Linked DNA regions of Homo sapiens: region 1 is linked to region 2. The links come from fine-mapping of genetic effects on gene expression. A gene starts in region 2. The other region holds a variant in brackets. All regions are shown on one strand. Distances are from middle to middle.

What was found. PIP is the estimated chance that this variant, and not a neighbour inherited with it, causes the effect.
Region 1: its variant is the best candidate, but not a certain one, in a credible set for the expression of CCR3 in thyroid (GTEx, PIP 0.53).

Annotation. Positions count from the first base shown.
Region 1 is chr3:46,151,004-46,154,049 of GRCh38, forward strand. No RefSeq gene overlaps it. Among named protein-coding and RNA genes, the nearest start is that of CCR1, 56 kb to the right of the region's middle. The variant C/T (reference allele first, on the strand shown) is at 1,612.
Region 2 is chr3:46,241,346-46,243,845 of GRCh38, forward strand. It overlaps CCR3 (C-C motif chemokine receptor 3), which reads left to right and starts at 1,115. Exons shown (of 2, transcript NM_178329.3): 1 at 1,115-1,193.

The sequences.
Region 1 (3,046 bases), 90 kb before region 2:
TGAGTGAACTCCCATTCACAATTGCTTCAAAGAGAATAAAATACCTAGGAATCCAACTTACAAGGGACATGAAGGACCTCTTCAAGGAGAACTACAAACCACTGCTCAATGAAATAAGAGAGGATACAAACAAATGGAAGAACATTCCATGCTCATGGGTAGGAAGAATCAATATCGTGAAAATGGCCATACTGCCCAAGGTAATTTATAGATTCAATGCCTTCCCCGTCAAGCTACCAATGCTTTTCTTCACAGAATTGGAAAAAACTACTTTAAAGTTCATATGGAACCAAAAAAGAGCCCGCATCGCCAAGTCAATCCTAAGCCAAAAGAACAAAGCTGGAGGCATCACGCTACCTGACTTCAAACTATACTACAAGGCTGCAGTAACCAAAACAGCATGGTACTGGTACCAAAACAGAGATATAGATCAATGGAACAGAACAGAGCCCTCAGAAATAACGCCGCATATCTACAACCATCTGATCTTTGACAAACCTGAGAAAAACAAGCAATGGGGAAAGGATTCCCTATTTAATAAATGGTGCTGGGAAAACTGGCTAGCCATATGTAGAAAGCTGAAACTGGATCCCTTCCTTACACCTTATACAAAAATTAATTCAAGATGGATTAAAGACTTAAACATTAGACCTAAAACCATAAAAACCCTAGAAGAAAACCTAGGCATTACCATTCAGGACATAGGCATGGGCAAGGACTTCATGTCTAAAACACCAAAAGCAATGGCAACAAAAGCCAAAATTGACAAATGGGATCGAATTAAACTAAAGAGCTTCTGCACAGCAAAAGAAACTACCATCAGAGTGAACAGGCAACCTACAAAATGGGAGAAAATTTTCGCAACCTACTCATCTGACAAAGGGCTAATATCCAGAATCTACAATGAACTCAAACAAATTTACAAGAAAAAAACAAACAACCCCATCAAAAAGTGGGCAAAGGACATGAACAGACACTTCTCAAAAGAAGACATTTATGCAGCCAAAAAACACATGAAAAAATGCTCACCATCACTGGCCATCAGAGAAATGCAAATCAAAACCACAATGAGATACCATCTCACACCAGTTAGAATGGCAATCATTAAAAAGTCAGGAAACAACAGGTGCTGGAGAGGATGTGGAGGAATAGGAACACTTTTACACTGTTGGTGGGACTGTAAACTAATTCAACCATTGTGGAAGTCAGTGTGGCGATTCCTCAGGGATCTAGAACTAGAAATACCATTTGACCCAGCCATCCCATTACTGGGTATATACCCAAAGGACTATAAATCATGCTGCTATAAAGACACATGCACACGTATGTTTATTGCAGCACTATTCACAATAGCAAAGACTTGGAACCAACCCAAATGTCCAGCAGTGATAGACTGGATTAAGAAAATGTGGCACATATACACCATGGAATACTATGCAGCCATAAAAAATGATGAGTTCATGTCCTTTGTAGGGACATGGATGAAATTGGAAATCATCATTCTCAGTAAACTATCACAAGGAAAAAAAAAACAAACACTGCATGTTCTTACTCATAGGTGGGAATTGAACAATGAGAACACATGGACACAGGAAGGGGAACATCACACTC[C/T]GGGGACCGTTGCGGGGGTGGGGGGAGGGGGGAGGGATAGCATTAGGAGATATACCTAATGCTAAATGACGAGTTAATGGGTGCAGCACACCAGCATGGCACATGTGTACATATGTAACTAACCTGCACATTGTGCACATATACCCTAAAACTGAAAGTATAATTAAAAAAAAACAAAAAAAACTAAAGAAATCTCAATAAAGTATGGCTTTAATTAATAATAATATGATCAATGCTGGTTTATTAATTGTAACAAATGTATCACCAATGTGAGGGGTTAATAATAGGGGAAACTGGGTGTGGTCTTATGGGAACTCTCAATACTATCTTTACACCTTTTCTGTGACTCTAAAACTGTTCTAAAAATTATTTATTTATTTATTTATTTATTTTTATTTTTTGAGACGGCCTCTCGCTCTGTTGCCCAGGCTGGAGTGCAGTGACACGATCTCAGCTCACTGCAAGCTCCGCCTCCTGGGTTCCTGCCATTCTCCTGCCTCAGCCTCCTGAGTAGCTGGGACTACAGGCGCCCGCCACCACGCCCGGCTAATATTTTGTATTTTTAGTAGAGACGAGGTTTCACCGCGTTAGCCAGGATGGTCTCAATCACCTGACCTCGTGATCCGCCCACCTTGGCCTCCCTAAGTGCTGGGATTACAGGCGTGAACCACCGTATTTTTTTTTTCTAATTAATCCCCAACATGCAGGCTGTGTGTTTGCCTGTTTCTGGACTATTTTCCAGATCGAAGACTAGCTGAGTGATTCATTTTGTAATTGGTAACCCTGACCCCAGCACCCCTCTGTGGCTGCCTCGTGGAGCAGGCTTCTATTCTGCACACCTCCTCCCTCTCTGCCCCTCCCTCCAGGTTGGCCTGTCTCCTCCCACCTCTCCCCTCCCTCCTGACAGGGTCTGGTCCTTCCTGCTGGAATTCTGTGGGTCATGAGGAACAGGGGATAAACAAGGCAGAGGCTGGATCTGGGGCAATGTTGGGGCAGGAAAAGGAATCAAAGACAGAAGCACAGGGTGGCAGAACCAAGGTCCTTCAATAAGGATGGACACATCAGAGCTTGTGAGTTGTTTATTCAATCACTTAAGAAATATTTGTAGGTGTCTACTATGTGCCAAGCCTGGCTGGATGCTATAAATACAATAGCAAGCAAATTAAATCTACTCCCAAATAATACAATAATGCTCATTCTGGGTTACCTGGACAATGAGCATCTTGGAATTAGGGACACTCCTTCTTCCCAGAGGAGGGGCTGCCCTAGGAGTCTCCTACATTAGAGAAGTAGCACGTTTCTATGGTCCCTGAGGCCTCCAAGTGCCCAGCAGTGGGCATTTCTGGGCACTTTCTTTTCTTTTCTTTGTTTTGTTTTTTTAGACAGAGTCTCGCTCTGTCATCCAGGCTGGAGTGCAGTGGCACGATCTCTGCTC
Region 2 (2,500 bases):
TTAGTCAGAGTTCTTCCCACAAATATTGGGTGAATACCTGCTCTGTGCCCAGTGCCATGCTAGGTCCCAAGGGACACATCAGCACATACAGCAGGCACATGGCTCTGCCCTGTGACGCTTTGCCCTGAGACATGGCTCTGCCCTATGACGCTTATGTCACAGTGGCATTCTACCCACACTTTACATTTCCTTAGCCCTGTATATTCTGCAGAGACTTTTCACATATTTATCTTAGTTGGTTCCACGGCAATGCTATGACTTAAATATCATTATTTCCAGTTTAGAGATGAAAAAGCTGAGGTCCAGCAAGTTTAAATTACTACCCCCAGCTTATGTAGCTGTGTATGCCACAACTGAAACTCAAACTCAAGTCTTTTAGACTTGTCTAAACCTTTGCAGCCACATTTTGCCCCATCCAAGTGTCTACTGGACCCTGCAGAATAATTAGTTTATTCCTTTGCCGGGAAATTCTTATTTCATTCTTCATCCTGTCTCCCGATGAGTCAAATCAATGCTTATTCAAGAATTATAAATCCCAGGTCTTTAGGAGGCCGAGACTCGCAGATCACTTGAGGTCAGAAGTTTGAGACCAGCCTGGCCAACATGGTGAAACCCTGTCTCTACTAAAAATACAAAAATTAGCCAGGCATGGTGGCATGTGCCTCTAATACCAACTATTCCAGAGGCTGAGGCAGGAAAATCCCTTGAACCCAGGAGGTGGAGGTTGCAGTGAACTGAGATCATGCCACTGTACTCCAGCCTGGGTGACAGAATGAAATCCTGTCTTAAAAAAAAAAAAAAAATTATAACAACCCCCCACCACTAAAAATGAGCAATGCCAATGGGTGGAGAGCCCCTAAAGCAGCACTAATTGCAAGGATTTCTCAGGTGACTGGTTAGTATGTGGTGTCAATCATGAAAAAGAAGAACTGCACGAAAGTATCTTTCTGAAAACTTGCAAAACTGAGAAGCTAGTCTGTTTAAAACAGGAAGTTATATACTTACATTGTTTACTACTTTACTAATGTCTGTGATCTGATGGTATCTCTGTTTCAGGAGTGGTGACGCCTAAGCTATCACTGGACATATCAAGGACTTCACTAAATTAGCAGGTACCACTGGTCTTCTTGTGCTTATCCGGGCAAGAACTTATCGAAATACAATAGAAGTTTTTACTTAGAAGAGATTTTCAGGTAGGTGTCGCTTTTCCAGGAAAAGGGAGGTGGAACAAGGAGGGGTCCAGGCAGGTGGAAGTAGTAACTTCCAGCAGTGCTCTTGGATCTAGGAGGGAGGAGAGGAAGGTACACAGCAATTTAGAGGTAGTATGGGGCCAGAGTGGGAGAAAATATGGCCACATATCTCCATTTTCTTCTTGCTTTTTCTAATTTTCCCTTTCTGTCTCCCATCCACACAATGATAAGTTTGCGTGTAGCACTCACCCAAACTTGGCCCTTTATACCTCTTTAGTCAACATCTGTGCCCATGTTACCCTCCTATACTTTCACAAATTCTCAACTATGTGCATATGACTACTCCAAAGAGCTTACACTTAATAGCTTGTGTTTATTTATATTGACTTGTAAGAAATAGCAAAAATATAATTTTACATATATATGTGTATATATATATATATACACATATATATATATATATATATACGCACACACACATACATTTTTATATATACAAAGTCCTCCCTCAGTATCTGTGAGGGATTTGTTCCAGGACCCTTGCAGATACCAAAATTCATAGATGCTCAAGTTCCTTATATAAAATGATGTAGTATTTGCTGATAACCTACAAATATCCTCCAGTACCCTTTAAATACAAGTACCTAGATTACTTGTAATACCTAATACAACGCATACAGAGCGCTTCATTCATGTGGAGTCAACATAGCACTTGCTGCGTGGCAAATTCAAGGCTTGGTTTTTGCAACTTTGTGGAGCTTTTTCCCAGATATTTTTGATCCGTGATTGGTTGAATACACAAATGTGGAACCCATGGATACAGAGGGCTGATTATATACATATGTGTGTGTGCATTAAGTATGTATGTGTGGAAATATATATATTTATTTGAAGTTTTCATTGAAAATCCACACTAAATCAAGCTACTAGATGAGTCAGTTGATTGATTTGGTGTCTTTTTTTCTGGGTGAATGAGATTGTCTGTGTTAGAGGGTAGAGCTAGAAAGCCTTACCGATTCTTCTGGAAACGCCTGGATTGACAGAGGATGAGTGTTAACTTTGACAAGTACTTCAAGTGAGAGTGGTGGGAATAAGGGGTCTTCCACATGGATGTGGTATAAGTTGAAGTATATTTTTGAAGTGCAGCTCTTTCCAGAAAATGGTGATGATTACACTGAACCACGCAGGATGAGTTAGCTCTTCTGGGAGAAGAAATATGAGCCCTTTGTATGACTTAATAAGAAAAAAGCAGATCTGTACAGCAGAATAAATTGGGTAAAGGGCACAAAGAGATAAATCACAGGAAGGGA